Homo sapiens: one gene and its partners. The protein of the gene in region 1 purifies or fractionates together with the protein of each later gene. This does not show direct contact. Each region holds a gene or a part of one and is shown in the gene's direction. Other genes may lie near its edges.

Region 1 (3,563 bases):
GCTAGGCCCTTCCAGGCGAGGGAAGACAGCCCTGCGCGGTTAGCCAGGTCTGGGCGAGCTCCTTCCTCTCGTTTAGGGCTTAAGAACCAACCGCCCCCACCCGCTATCCCAAGCGCAGGGGTGTCTATCCTGCCCCGGAGCCCGCGTCCTGGCTCCTCCCCGCCGGGCGCCCGTGGATCCTAAGCTGCCTTTGGGGAGAGGCCTGGTGGGCGGCAGTAAACCCAGGGGCAACCACCTCCAGCATCTGGAGGCGGCGCGCCCGGAGCCTGCGTTCCTACTGGGAGCCGGGCCGGGACGCCCTGGGCGGCGGGCAGGCCCCGAAACGCCGGCCCGAGTCGGCGCGAGGCTGTCTTCTCTGGGCCTGCAACGCCACACGCTGTTGCCGGCGAGGAACAGCCGTGGAGGAGGCGCCATCGCGCGCACGCAAACCTCCGGCCCGAGGCTGTGTGCACAGCGCTCTTCTCCGCCCGCATAAATTGGCACGTTTAGCAAAGCCGTTCACGGTGAATTTCGGGGAAACTCTGCCTTCCTCAACCCCCTTCCAGGCTTCCCTACTTGTCTCCTAAATTCCATGTTAATGGCACTATGTTAGTAGGAAAACACTGTTAAGGTGTCAAGGCACACTTGTAGGTAAAGGCTAGAGTGGCTTCTCGTCCCCACAGAAAGCAAAGGCGTGGAGCGGGGGCGGCAGGGGCGGGTGTGCGGCCCGGAGAGCTCCCGGCTGCAGGCAGGCAGGAGGCGGCGCCCCCACCTCGCGGGCTCGGCGGCGGCCCCTGGGCCCAGGGCGCCCCCTGCGCAAAACCTCCTCCCCGGCTCCCTGCCCGCGGGGTCCCCCTAGCGGGGGTCTCCGGAGGCCTCCTCCCAAGTGAGCAGCGCTAATCCATCCCCCGGATCGCGCCGGGAGAGCGGAGCCGCGGCGCGGGAGCCGCTCATTGGCATTCTGAGCACACGGGCGGGGGCGCGGGGCGCAGCGTGTCAAGCCGGGCCGTGCGACTCGACGACTCGGGCTCGCCAGCGCCCGGGGTCGCATTCCGGGGGGCTACGGAGGGCCTCCAACGGCCAGCCCCGCACTTCATGCCAGAGAAACCGATGAGAAGATTAAAAGCCCCCTGTAATTCCAGCAGGAAGATTCTTTCTGGCAATCTCTATTTGCAAAAAGCATGATCCCGGAGATTGGAATGCAAAGAAGACGGCCCTCCCCGCCCTCCTCCCCGGCCCCCTGCGCTCCGCCCCAACTTCAATTATTGTCCTGGGGACAGTGAGCCTCAGAGAGCGACAGAGGGCTCGAGAAAGCGGGTAGTCAAGGGGCCTTGAGACCCGGCGCTTCCAGCGCTCCGAACAGGCCCCGCCATTTAAAATTCAAATACACATCTTGAGTGCTTGGAAGAGAGGCCTGGCTGTGCAAATAGTGCTTGTGAATTGCACACGGGGTGGGGGGGGGTTGCACCTGAGCAAATAGGGAGGGGGAGGCCCGCGAGCTGGGGAGAGAGTGAGCTGAGAACAGGGAGGGGAGAAAATGGAAGTGTCCCCTTCCAAGAGTGTCTCCTGTTTATCCCAGAAATCACAATGACAATGCTGGGCCCTTTATTGGATTTTAATTAGAAAATCCACACAAGCCTCGGATTTTCACACCTCGGCCAATCTCTGGAATGTTTGTCCAGTTGCTACAACTACTGCAGCTATTTTTCACTCCCCGCCCCCGCCCCTCCGCAGGCCCACGCCGAGGCGCGGCAGGGTGCTGCGGGCAGGCGGGCAGGCGGGCAGGCGGGCCAGGGGTTTCCGCCGCGCAGCCCGGGTGCTGAGTGCGCGAGCAGGCGCCGCGCCCCGCGCCGGGGCGGGAGGGAAGGAGGGTGCGCCCGGCGCCCGCGGGAGCTCAAGGAGGCTTCCTGAGGAATCCAAGTGCAGAGCAAACACCCTCTGGATGGATTCGCGGCGAGGCCGGGTGTGTGCGGAGCTGGGGGTGGGGTTGGAGGAAGGCGGAAGGAAAGAGTGTCACCGGCCTCTGCAGGAAACGCCAGCCAACCTCTGTGACCGCCAGCCCAGACTTAGAGAGTCGTTAAGGAATGTGTCGGAATCCTGTCCCTGGGGCAGTGGGGTTGGGGGAGGGAGGTGTGTGCGGGACCCGCCTGGAATCAATCGCCCCGCCCCGCGCCTTGCGCACCCCTGGCCTAGGAGCGCGGGCACCAAGCGTGCGCCCTCCTCCCCGAGACGCGCCTCCCTCTCGGAACTCAATGCCCTGTCCTCTCTTCTTTCCCTTCTCCTCACCCGCAGAGAACTCGGTGGCGGCCAAATCGGGAGGCTGCTTCCCGGGCTCGGCCACGGTGCACCTGGAGCAGGGCGGCACCAAGCTGGTGAAGGACCTGAGCCCCGGGGACCGCGTGCTGGCGGCGGACGACCAGGGCCGGCTGCTCTACAGCGACTTCCTCACTTTCCTGGACCGCGACGACGGCGCCAAGAAGGTCTTCTACGTGATCGAGACGCGGGAGCCGCGCGAGCGCCTGCTGCTCACCGCCGCGCACCTGCTCTTTGTGGCGCCGCACAACGACTCGGCCACCGGGGAGCCCGAGGCGTCCTCGGGCTCGGGGCCGCCTTCCGGGGGCGCACTGGGGCCTCGGGCGCTGTTCGCCAGCCGCGTGCGCCCGGGCCAGCGCGTGTACGTGGTGGCCGAGCGTGACGGGGACCGCCGGCTCCTGCCCGCCGCTGTGCACAGCGTGACCCTAAGCGAGGAGGCCGCGGGCGCCTACGCGCCGCTCACGGCCCAGGGCACCATTCTCATCAACCGGGTGCTGGCCTCGTGCTACGCGGTCATCGAGGAGCACAGCTGGGCGCACCGGGCCTTCGCGCCCTTCCGCCTGGCGCACGCGCTCCTGGCTGCACTGGCGCCCGCGCGCACGGACCGCGGCGGGGACAGCGGCGGCGGGGACCGCGGGGGCGGCGGCGGCAGAGTAGCCCTAACCGCTCCAGGTGCTGCCGACGCTCCGGGTGCGGGGGCCACCGCGGGCATCCACTGGTACTCGCAGCTGCTCTACCAAATAGGCACCTGGCTCCTGGACAGCGAGGCCCTGCACCCGCTGGGCATGGCGGTCAAGTCCAGCTGAAGCCGGGGGGCCGGGGGAGGGGCGCGGGAGGGGGCGGGGCGGGGCAGCAACAGCAACGCAAAGCAAAAAGACACTCGGAAAAGGCGCACGAACCAGACTGAGTTATAATAAGAATAAGAATAATAAAGTAGGACAGTCCAAAGTAGACTCTAAGGAAACAAGGACCCCGGGAAGTTTTGTTGTTGTGCTTAGTTGATATATATTTTTTGAATTTTTTTGGTTATTGTTTTATTTTGGTTATTTTTTCCTCCTCTCCTGGCTATTTATTTGTTTGGTATGAATAGATGTTTTAAATAATATGAACCGGACCTTCAAGAGCCTTAAATAGTTTGTTTCTTGGATAATTTATTATGATCATGTGAACTGTACTCACGGGGGAAAGATTATTTTGTGAGGCCAAGCAACCTGCTCAGAGTCTATTTTTCTACATGTCCCTCGTCCCGGCTGTCAGAAAGCAAACCTCTG
Region 2 (4,179 bases), on another chromosome or scaffold:
AATGATCAGGACAGATATTGATTTAGAAATCAACCACAGAGATATGTTGGCTGAATCCTTATGAGAAGAAATCACCAAGGAATAATTAGAGTACAGAGAGAAAAAGGACAAAAAGAAAACCTTAAGGGAACACCTGTATTTTAATATAAAGTAGCGAGAGAATGAAGGAAAACGGGTCAGCCAGAGAAGAGGTAAGAGGTTAAGAGGTAAGAGGTAAGGTGATAAAAGTCAAGGAAGAAACGTTTCCAGAAAGACCGCCGAATACTGCTTAAAGGACACGTAAGTAATTTACTGTGGTCACAGAGATCACATCGAAGCTCCTAAACTCCGCACCTATTGAATGACCACACTAGAAAAACAATGTGGTTTTTCAAGAGGAACCGATGTGTCATTTTACCAATAGTTAACCTGGGACTCGGTCATCAAAATTCATTGCAAGTTCCAATCTCCTTCATTAAACCTTCTTTGCAGCCCACACAGCTCTCCTTACATTGAGCTTTTGAGGTAACTATTATTAATCATGTACGAGGACCCACGTGCTCCTTCATCCTTGTAGTACTGCGCGGTGGTTAAATGCAAGGGCTTCCGAATCAGAGGCTGGATGGATTCTAATACAGCAGTGTGACGAGCTCTTGTTAACCAACTTTTCTAAGCCTCTGTTTTCTCGTCTGCAAAAGGGGGATGGTGGTACTTACTCTATCAGAGTTGAGAAGAGTGCATGAGATGATTGCGAGTAAAAACCTTAGCGCAATGCCTTCAAAGGCTCAATTCATTTTGCTGTTACTGTGTTTTGGAATTTCCCTGAGGGTAGACGACTACTCCAACACTATTCCCTAACGCAGCAGCACTGACATGGGGACAGTGCGCCTCATTCAGCCAGCTCTCTGGGAAACAACTTTCTGAGGAAGAGAGATAAACAGCTGACGGGTTTCCCGGGACTCCGCAGCCCACCGAGACAGGGTTGACTGTAGGGCGCCGAGGAAAGGGGGAGGTGGGATCCCAGCAACCACTGGCGACCTCGGAGGACCGCAAGTCCCAGGGTGCAGCGCGCCTACCCCGGGTAGAAGCGAGAGACACGGCTCCGAGTCGGCTCGCGGGAGAGCCGGGGAAGAAGCAGTGCACACTGGGACTGGTAGTCCTCAGGGGGCAACTCCGCGGGTCGGAGGCGGGTCGAAGCGAGAGATCCCTTCCCAGTCCCGCCTTTTGTCCACGTCTCACTTCTCCTGGCCAATGCCCTCTCCAGTCGCCGGAGACAGCCCCTCTCCCATGAGGTCTCCATTGGTCCTGAGGCTCTACGGCTTCGGCCCTACCCGGAAGTAACGTTGGGGAGGCGGTTTCCTAGACTACGACACCGGAAAGCTGGGGGAGGCGCTCCGGGATACTGAGGGCGGAGGGCGGTGGCAGCGCTGGCGCTGGGGACCGGCTTGGTGGCTTCGGGAAACAGTTTGGCGCCGGCGGCCGTCCGTGTTACTCCGCATCCCGCCCCGTCTCGGCACGGCTAGCAGCCCCCTGGCCACCAGCGTCCAGCAATGTGTCTCACCGGCCGGGCGTAGCAGCTGCGCGTGCGCGGAACCGCGGGGCCATGAGCGAAGCCGGCGGCCGGGGCTGTGGGTCCCCGGTTCCCCAGCGAGCGCGATGGAGACTAGTGGCGGCGACGGCCGCGTTCTGCCTGGTGTCGGCCACCTCCGTGTGGACGGCGGGGGCCGAGCCCATGAGTAGGGAGGAGAAACAGAAGCTTGGGTAAGGGTGCTGGCAGCCTGGGGTGGGTTTCTCGGTGAGGCTGACAACAGGAGGGGTGCCTGTCATTGCGACCCGGTCGCGTAGTGGCCTCTCCTGTCGCGATTGGAACGGCTCTTCCCGCGCGAGAACCCTAGAGGGGTGGACAGGGTCCGGGGAGGTGGGAACCGCCGCCCGCGACCTGACCTCGGGGGAGCTGACGGGGTGTCGCCCTGGCCGCCGGTGACATGTGCAGGCTCCTTGAAGCCAGGCGCGGTGTGTCAACGCGGCTGCCATGTCAGTGGCCCAAGAAGGGGGCTACAGCCCGCATCGCTGCGCGCTGGAGTTCTGCGGTTGGCTGCCTGTCGACCGAAGCATGGTTAGCTTTCTCGCGCAAGTGAGCTTCCAACTGGGAAAATGTTGCTGATCTCACAGTAGTTAAGGAAATGATGTTTACACCTGTTACGGAAAAGGGGGCGTTCATTGGAACTTGAACTTTACACATTTTACTATTTCCTTGCAGTGTTTTCTTGCACTGTATTTTCATAATAGAATGTTTGGGGGGAAATTATTCAAAAGTCTCAAGTATACCTATTCAGTAGTTTTTATCCGTCTTGGAAGTGTGTTAAAATTATCAATTCTATTTACACCATTTAATTCAGAGTAATACATACACGAGGTCCTACACATGAATAAGAAAAAAGCGAAGAACCAGTAGGAAATGGGAGAAAGGCATGAACGGTTAAGCCAGAAGAGGAAATGGAAGTGGTAAATAAACATGAAAAGTTACTCAACCTCCATAAACGTAGGAGATGCAGATTAAAACGAGGAGCTAGCTGGTTTTTGCCCATCAGATTAGTAAATATAATACAAAACACAAGGATACGGTTCTGGTTAGTTAAGGAATAGAAAAAAAAGGCTTAGTGAGAGTGTAAATTGCTGTAACTTATTGGTAGTATCTACTAAAATTTAAATTGTGCACACTTTGATTCATCAGTTCTATTTCTGAGAATCTACCCTAAGAAAATAAAAGCACTCTTAATGCAGAGATAGATCCAGCCTGGGCAACAAGAGCGAAACTCTGTCTCGAAAAAAAAAAAAAAAAGTGCATTTTGAAAGAACAGCTCTTCCTTGGAGGAAATGGTTCAATAGGGTACGTTCATATTATGGAATAATATTGAGACATTAAGAAGAAGGAAGTACGTCACTGGAAGCCTATCCAGAATATATTTCCAAAACAAAAAAAAATGCAAGTTGTAGAATAATATGTATAGTATCATCCCATGTTTTTTTTAAAAAAGAAAAAAAAAATCTGAGCTCAGAAAAAAAGTGGAACGAAGATTATCTCATGGGGTTAGGCTGGAGGGGTGGTGGAACCATCAGGTCTTACTTTATGTACTTTAAATCATTGCAAAGAGTCTTGTATTCGTTTCTAAATAGCAATAAAGGTCACTTGATGGAAAAAAGCTGAAGTATCAACCATCAAAATAAAATTACCGGTAAACTCTAATAAATATCTTACATTTTCTCTCATATGAATTTAATGTATCATTGATAAGTTTTACCAAATATCTCACTCTGTGAATACTTTACATATGTTATCTCTGTACTCCTTCCTATTTCCCAATGAATATGATCCACATTTGCAAATGAGGAAGTTGAGACCCAAGGTTGACTTGTTCAGCCACAAAGCTAGTAATTGGTAGAGCCAGCATTCAAACCCAAGCCTGTCTGATCCCAGAGCCAGGCTCTCTCCAGTATGTTGCACGTTCATTAGACTTGGAAGAGAAGTATCAAGTCTGTTAAGAACCACAAGAATCTTATTTGACTATCACTACCCTTTCTTCATTTTTTATTAAAAACTTATTTGTAAAAGAGTCATTGGATAAATCATTTTTGACCAAAATTAGTTTTTAACTGGAAAAGTTCAACCAAATTGGCTTGAAATTTCAGCTCAAATTTTGAGATCATTTATGAAAGTGAAATTACAATTATTTAGGCTTGTTAGATTGCTCTACCCTTGAGTAAGGGTAGGGTAAGAATCTAGAGCTATAAACGACAAATACACAATTATATGACTGCTTTCTCTGGGAATTTTCAGAAAACTGAACTTTGATTCATTAGGTTTACCTGTGCATTTTTTAAAGCCCAAATAATGATTCATGATAAAAAGCAGAAAATGCCCCACCCCTTTCCCTCCCCACCAACAAACCAAATAGTTGATAAAGACTGGAATTGTCATGAATAGTAAGCAATTGCTCAATAACTTACACTTTGTGGAATTACTTAGCTGGTTATATGTAGTCTTATCCTTCATGGAATAAGCTTTTTGGTTTTGTTTTTAAAATTTTGCAACAGGGTATTTTGTTAATGTTATGTTTTCATTAAAAAATGAAGTAGAAAACAATCCAGTTTCTATAGCACGTGGGCAGGAGACGTAACTTTAGAAAAAGCCGACTTGGC
Region 3 (3,563 bases), on another chromosome or scaffold:
CCCTGAGCTGGGTAGGCCCGTTGGTTGGTAAACCTTTGTTGTCTTTGAGGAGGCCAAAGAAGCCTTGCATGGACGCCTCACACTTGCCACTTACAAACAGTGGAAAACTTAATTTTTTGTACTCTCCTTCCTTTAACTCCTCTCAGGCTTTGCTTTTTTTTAAATATTTTTTAAAAAAATTTATTTTTAATTTTTGAGGATACACAGTAGGTGTATATATTTATAGGGTACATGAGATATTTTGGCACAGGCATGCAATTTGTAATAATCACATCATGGAAAATTGGGTATCCAACCCCTCAAGCATTTTTCTTTTGTGTTACAAACAATCCAATTATACTTTTAGTTATTTTAAAATGTACAGTTAAATTATTATTGACTGTAGTCCTCCTGTTATGCTATCGAATACTAGGCCTTGAGGAAAGTTTAAAACCAGAGTATTGTCATGCTGGCTTTGAAACAGGAGGGTACTTCACATCCCCAAACTAAATAATCTGTAATAAAAATTTTTCATATTTTTTGTTTGTTTGTTTAATTGACAGGGTATTGTTCTGTCACCCAGGCTGGAGTGCAGTGGCATAATCATTGCTCACTGCAGCCTTGAACTCCTGGGCTCAAGCAGTCCTCCTGCCTCAGCCTCCCGAATAGCTGGGACTAGAGGTGTGCCCCACCATGCTCGGCTAATTTTTTTTTTTTTTAATTTTTCTGTAGAAGTGGGGTCTTACTTTGTTGCCCAGGATGGTCTCAAACCCCTGGCCTCAAGCAGTCTTCCCGCCTTGGCCTCCCAAAGTGCTGAGATTATAGGTGTGAGCCACCAAGCCCAGCCAAAAATCTTTCAGATTTTAAAAAATCAAATGTATTCTAATGACTCATTTAACAAGAGTGAATTTGCCATTAGAGTATTATATAAAAAGTACACATAGAAAATTTCGGTGCTAAACACTCTTACCGTTTCTCTGTAGTCATATATGCTCCAAACTTATCTTGCCTCAAGTACATGTGACTTGTTCTTGGGGAGGTATCAGGTAAGGAGTTAACATGAAGTGAATAAAACCTGAACACTCTAAAAAGAGCAGATCTGTCTAAGATAACTATGCAAAGTCAGTTCTCACATCCTTAATTTGGGTTGGAGGATCCAAATTTAAAGTTTCTTTGAGTAAATGTGGATATTATATTTTTGTAATCCTGTGAATGGTTAACTGTAGTTCTGGCTTTTGGGCATGTGACCATTCTCAATTTCTTCTCAACTGTATTGCTATTAAAACAACAAAACAAATCTCAAATTAAGCCAAACAAATATTGGCCCCTCAAATGCTTAGGTACTACTAGCTCAAGATGGCCTCCTCTGCATTCCTCTTTCTTTGGAAAGTCCTGCCCTCTTTCAGAGTCAGGCTCCTCTTGTTTCCGTGACACCATCTAACTGTTTGAAGATGATTTTCCTTTATTTGCTCAGTTCTTCTTTTGATTCCTTTCCTTTGAGCTGCGATTCTACATTTTAACCTTATTTGAGGATTGAGTACTGTTGTGTATTCACCTGCATTTCCCTTTGTCTTGTCTCTCCAGATTATCAATCCCTTGAACGCAGGGACTGTTTCTTATGTTATCTCTGTGCCTACACCACACCAGGTAGATTTCTGAACAGCTGTTACAGGTTAAGTATACATGGGAATTTAAATTTAAAAACACATATGTTTGATTTTGTTAGCTACATAATCAAAAATTTTCTATCAAAGGCCATGGTTTTCTCCATCTTTTCTGTTTTGAGGTGAACTTTAAAAATTTACAGTGGGGTGAATGCCATGAACATTTGTACCTGGTGAAGTAAGTGGAGCGTTTAGTTGTGCGGTTCAGCCAGCTGGTTACAGGGAAAGGTATTGAGTTCTTGCTGGATGAACTTAAAGGTATCAGGTTAGGCTGGAGATTGACAAGAATATCTACAAAGAACAAATCCAGAGTCTGAGCTGCATAGTGGGCTGGCATAAATGGAGTCATAATAATTTCATGCTGTTAGGCCAGTAGAGTTTTATGGTGTTTTTTTTTCTTCCTTCATCCTCACTCCCACTTCCCCCTTATTTTGGCACCTTTTGAAAGAGGATGTAGCAATTATTTGGTAAGAAAGAATTAAAAGTGTTCTAATGAGTAAATACCCCAGATCTTAGAGAGGATTTGTCTGACTAGAGTGGAGAGAAGAAACCCCACAGTTACTGCAAGTAATTTTTTTTTTTTTTTTTACTGTGGCAGCTCATTAATTTTTAGTGACTGGGCATTGTAAAAAATATTTTAAAACTGGGTCTATTTTAGTTATAGATTACAAGGCAAAGCACAATAAAACATAGAAAGGAGTTCAGTGCTCACAGTGAGTACCTTCCTTCCATGGGCCTGTGCAGGTGGATAGAATGACACATGCCGCAGATCTGGGTGTGACTCAGGAGAGGGGAGTTACATGTGGTTCTCCTGATTACCATCTAGCTTGGATGCTACATGATGAGGGAGCTGTTTTCTGATGAGGTGGGCTGTTGAAGCCCACTCTGTTTCTAAGCGGCAGAGCAACAGAGTGAAATATTTACACAGAGCAGAACATTCTTGAGTTGGCAGAATTGGGCGTAAGGATCTCCCTGTCTCCTTTGAGCCCCTCCTGCAACCCTTGCACTTTTTGTACCTTTTTTGGCTGTCACTTGCGCTTGAGAGGCATATTTGAATCCATAGCTCTTGCTTTGAGGGGACCTTTTGCTATTGTATAAGTTTATTTCCAGAAAATCAACAAATAGAAAAAACAGGTACAATTTTCCAGCCAAGCAGTTTTCTGACTTCCCAGCTTATAGGAAATGAGCTAGCCCTAGTTCCTAGACTATAGCCCCCATATATATCTCGTTTCAAAAAAACAGTATCTAAAATTTTTTTTTTTTTTGAGACAGAGTTTCGCTCTTGTTGCCCAGGCTGGAGTGCAATGGCATGATCTCGGCTCACCGCAACCTCCGCCTCCTGAGTTCAAGTAATTCTTCTGCCTCAGCCTCCCTAGTAGCTGGGATTACAGGCGCCTGCCACCACGCCCAGCTAATTTTTGTATTTTTAGTAGAGACAGGGTCTTGCCATGTTGGCCAGGCTGGTCTTGAACTCCTGACCTTGGATGATCCACCCACCTCGGCCTCCCAAAGTGCTGGGATTACAGGCGTGAGCCACCGCACCCAGCCTAAAATTTTACTATAAATTCTTTGCTTTAGATTAGATGGTGTAACAGCATAAAACAAGGCAACTGGAGGGTTCAAATAAAATGAGACATTGGAGCTGTTATGCCTCTTTCACATAAGCCCCATTTTCCCCAGCTGAGGCACAGGCCTTTCAGAGACCACAGCAAGCCATCACAACACGAGAGGTGCTGTGCACCAGAAGCTTCTCTGACTGGAAGGTGAGATAAGGACCCATTAGGGTGATCCGAGGAGCAGATGAAGTGCTTTGGGATATGATGGAAGACTGCAGATATCAATGCATCTTGCTGGAAATAAAACTGGAGCTTTTTTGCTTTGGTTGCTAATAAAATCTTTAAACAGTTGTCTTATGTCTTC
Region 4 (4,117 bases), on another chromosome or scaffold:
TCAGGATTGAAGTTAGCTGCTCTGGAAAAAGGATCAGACTTCTAACTATTGCCCAACCACATGGCCCCAGCCCGCTTTTCTGCAGGGGGAAATGAAGAGAGAAAATGGCCACCTCTGCTGCCTTGCCTTCTCCGAAGATAAATAGTCCCAATAGTTTGGCAGCCACCCTCTCTCGGGCAGTAAGGGGTGTGCAAGACTTCCATGGACCAGAGAGAGTTCCCTTACAAAGCCACTTCTGCCAATCAGAGGCAAGATTCCCTGGATGGCTGAATCCTCTTCATCCTTTTTAGGTTCTTAAGATGCAGAGGAAAGAGTGCTTCCTGGTTAGCCTTGCTAAGCTGCCCATGATTGGTAAAAATGAGGGACAGGAAATCCTCAGACCCAGAGCGAAGGTCTATCTAATCCCTGCTGCGTCTTTAGGAGGGCTTGGTGTTTGAGGTCCTCCCTCCAAAATCTTCAGGATGGAGTTTGTAGGATTGCCCTGGAATGCCATGGTGTTACTACTTGGAGAAAGAAAAGGGTGACTCTTCAACATCTCTCTCTCTCTGCGGAAGTGGGAGGTGCCGATCAGAAAGGGAAACAAGGAAGGGTCGTTGGTCTGAGTGGCCCCAGGAGGGCCCCAAGTACAAAGACACTTCAGACCTTGTCGAACATCAGCATGAAAAGCTTGACGGTTTCTTAGCTGGGAGGCCTCACAGTTCTGCGCCGGACAGTCCTGAACTAACCACCTGAATGACCTCTGCCAAGTCCAAAAGCTGTGGACAGGGGTAGGTGTAACCGTGGCCAGAGCTGCGCTCAGGGACTGGACGACTGCCAGTCCGTCGCCCGCACAATCCTGCTCCAAACCGCAGGCCTCACACTTCACCGCGCCGCAGCCACCCCTACCACAGAGGAGCTGGAAACACTGAGCATTCCTATTAAATAAGCCTCCAAGTCCCCACCTGGTACGCTTTGCGGTGGGGCGTGGGGAAGAGTTGGGCTGCGGCCAGGGTAGCGAGAGGGGGTGGGATGGAGGATGCAGCGCTGTGATTTCTCAGTAAAGCGTGGAGAAAGAGGGGGAGGAGGCCGGCCTCCCCGGGAAATTAACAAAACCTACACTTTGCAAAGTCTCCCCCATCCCCCTCCCCCGAGTTCTTCCCCGCCGCGCGCCCGCCCCTCCTCGCGGCTTCTGTTGTGACTCGGGCAGCCTATCCCGAGGGTGCGGAGCTGCCGAGGAGCCTGAGCCGAGCGGTACTCCGCAGCATCACGTGCCAGGGTGGGGGGCTATAAAATACCCGAGCCGGGGCGCCGGGCGGGGGACGTGAGGACCAGCCCTCTCCGGGGACCCCTTTGTTCCCAGCCCAGACGCCAACACCTCTGCGTCCCCAAGGGCTTGACTGCCCGTGTCTGCGCGGCTCCCAGGGCAGAGCTTAGAACACTAGAGGAGAGGGGTCGCCGCGAACTGCCGGGGCTTCCAGCCACCCACCCCTCTCGACATGTCGCGCTCCTTCTATGTCGACTCGCTCATCATCAAGGACACCTCACGGCCTGCGCCCTCGCTGCCTGAACCGCACCCCGGGCCGGATTTCTTCATCCCGCTTGGCATGCCGCCCCCATTGGTGATGTCCGTGTCCGGCCCCGGCTGCCCGTCCCGCAAGAGCGGCGCGTTCTGCGTGTGCCCTCTCTGCGTCACTTCGCACCTGCACTCCTCTCGGGGGTCTGTGGGCGCCGGCAGCGGGGGCGCAGGGGCCGGGGTTACCGGGGCCGGAGGCAGTGGGGTGGCAGGGGCCGCAGGGGCACTGCCTCTGCTTAAGGGCCAGTTCTCTTCGGCTCCTGGGGACGCGCAGTTTTGCCCGCGGGTGAACCATGCGCATCATCACCACCACCCGCCGCAGCACCACCATCACCATCATCAGCCCCAGCAGCCTGGCTCGGCCGCGGCGGCGGCAGCAGCAGCAGCGGCGGCGGCGGCCGCGGCGGCCTTGGGGCACCCGCAGCACCACGCACCTGTCTGCACCGCCACCACCTACAACGTGGCGGACCCGCGGAGATTCCACTGCCTCACCATGGGTAGGGCGGGGTCTTGGGGCACCTGCGCTCCGCGCCTTTCGCGCTCCTGGAGCAAACTTTCCACCTCCAGTGGAGGAAGTGGGAGCCCGGGGACAGGGTGAAGAGAGAGGACGGGCTTTTAGTGTAACCGTAGAGTCAGCCACAGAAGTTCCACGAAAGTGGAAGTTAGTTTGCCAGCTTCTCCACTCAGCCTGGTGCGTTTTACTCCTAGTAGTAGGTGCTCGAGTATTGCCTTATTAATACTGGGGCCTTAGGGACCTCGAACGTCACGGCGGATAAACCAGAGGTTAACTGCTTGGGATTTGGGGTGGGTGTGTTTGAACCTGTGTGGCATCCCCGCGTCGGGGCGGCTAAAGCGTCTTGACGTTTTTGGCTAAGCCTGCGCGCTTCTCCGCTTGGCTCAAAGGGAGGCGATCAGATAGTGCAAGCCCCCATCCCTCTTTAATCCTGTGACTTCGCATCCTGCGCATCGAAGACCTTTATTTGCTTTGCACGTCTCTTTTCTTCCCCGCTAAGCAACCACGTGCCTTGAAATGGGAAAGGGATACAGATGTTCGGCTGGGCTTCCCCGGGTGGGTCCCTGAAATGCGTCCTGGTTAGCACATGGGGTGGGAGCACCTTGCCCGAGCCTTACCTCTCTACCCTCTCTTCGCCGGTCCGCAGGAGGCTCTGACGCCAGCCAGGTACCCAATGGCAAGAGGATGAGGACGGCGTTCACTAGCACGCAACTCCTGGAGCTGGAGAGAGAATTCTCTTCCAACATGTACCTGTCTCGACTCCGGAGGATTGAAATCGCCACTTACCTGAACCTGTCGGAGAAGCAGGTGAAAATCTGGTTTCAGAACCGCCGAGTGAAGCACAAGAAGGAGGGGAAGGGCACGCAGAGGAACAGTCACGCGGGCTGCAAGTGCGTCGGGAGCCAGGTGCACTACGCGCGCTCCGAGGATGAGGACTCCCTGTCGCCGGCCTCAGCCAACGATGACAAGGAGATTTCCCCCTTATGAGGGAGGGCCTCCTCCCTCACATCCCCCGCTCCTGGCAGACCAGGCAACGCCAAGGCGTGGGGCACCCAGGGGCCAGAATCCTTGCTCATTGCAGTGGTCCCATCTGGAGAAGAAACGAACCTGGAAGTTCTGGAATGGACAAGCCGGGACCTGACCCTTCGCGTCTCCTTCTTGACCTGTTTATCTAGGACTCCAACTTGAAGTTACAGATTTTTTTAAAAAATGTAAATAACCTATAATTCAACTCATTCTTGTCGTATAACAGAGGAAAAACAGGGTTGGTTTAAGTTTAACACTGTATGGGGTTTTTGAAAGCACATGTCAGTTCCCCATCCCTACTCTCTTTCAGAACTCGATAAGAACACAGGATTTATTGATTATTTTCTGTTGTCGTTTTCAAACAAAAACACCCAAGTTGAAAATAATTTAGAAAATTAGACCTTGTAGGTCTTGCTTTCTGAAATTTCGCCTGGGGAGAATTTAAAATCTAAGTCGCTGGAAGTCCCTTTGTATGTGAATAGGTTTATATAAAATTTATATTTATATTTATTTAAATAAATGAAACAAAAACCAGAATTTTAAATCTGTGGTGTTTGCTCTCCCTATCTTCTCCTGCCCCCTCCTCCAATGTCTAGAGAAAGGCATATGCAGGAAAAAGCTGTCTGAGGAATTCGAGGAAAATGTTGAGTAAGAACTTGGTAATGTGGGTCTCTTGACTGAGGGAGTTTGTGGCTCAATGGGTTTTCTATGTAACAGAACTTTCGCCAAGGAGACACCTTTAGTCATGATGGCATCTACCAGGCAGTGCCTCTCCATCCTTAAAATAGGCAACCTCCTCACAGTTGATAGGACAAATCACTCCATTTGGAATGACACTGACCATTAACGACAGGTAAACCTTTATTTAGCAAGGAAGGGTAAAAATCCCCCATCTAGTTTTTGTTTTCTTCTTTCTACTTCCTCATTTCTCTCAGTACGAAAACTTGAATTATGTGAAGGAATTTGTAGAGTCAGAATAGTTTTAGGAAGAGCAACAATCCATCAAACAGGTCAGAAGCAAACAG

Evidence for each region.
Region 2: the proteins of SHH (region 1) and EDEM3 purify together in Homo sapiens (affinity purification with western blotting, with the first as the bait; one study listed by BioGRID). This does not show direct contact.
Region 3: the proteins of SHH (region 1) and EDEM1 purify together in Homo sapiens (affinity purification with western blotting, with the first as the bait; one study listed by BioGRID). This does not show direct contact.
Region 4: the proteins of SHH (region 1) and GSX2 purify together in Homo sapiens (affinity purification with western blotting; one study listed by BioGRID). This does not show direct contact.

The regions. Positions count from the first base shown.
Region 1 is NC_000007.14:155,802,435-155,805,997, reverse strand, and holds part of SHH (sonic hedgehog protein isoform 1 preproprotein), read left to right. Parts: intron 1-2,271; coding exon 2,272-3,098; 3' UTR 3,099-3,563.
Region 2 is NC_000001.11:184,752,050-184,756,228, reverse strand, and holds the start of EDEM3 (ER degradation-enhancing alpha-mannosidase-like protein 3 isoform 2 precursor), read left to right. Parts: upstream 1-1,370; 5' UTR 1,371-1,582; coding exon 1,583-1,740; intron 1,741-4,179. UniProt on the Homo sapiens protein: Involved in endoplasmic reticulum-associated degradation (ERAD). Accelerates the glycoprotein ERAD by proteasomes, by catalyzing mannose trimming from Man8GlcNAc2 to Man7GlcNAc2 in the N-glycans.
Region 3 is NC_000003.12:5,190,707-5,194,269, forward strand, and holds part of EDEM1 (ER degradation-enhancing alpha-mannosidase-like protein 1), read left to right. Parts: exon of another isoform or gene 1-1,597; coding exon of another isoform or gene 1,598-1,626; exon of another isoform or gene 1,627-1,651; intron 1,652-2,232; exon of another isoform or gene 2,233-3,563. UniProt on the Homo sapiens protein: Extracts misfolded glycoproteins, but not glycoproteins undergoing productive folding, from the calnexin cycle.
Region 4 is NC_000004.12:54,098,870-54,102,986, forward strand, and holds GSX2 (GS homeobox 2), read left to right. Parts: upstream 1-1,293; 5' UTR 1,294-1,475; coding exon 1,476-2,049; intron 2,050-2,712; coding exon 2,713-3,053; 3' UTR 3,054-3,629; downstream 3,630-4,117. UniProt on the Homo sapiens protein: Transcription factor that binds 5'-CNAATTAG-3' DNA sequence and regulates the expression of numerous genes including genes important for brain development.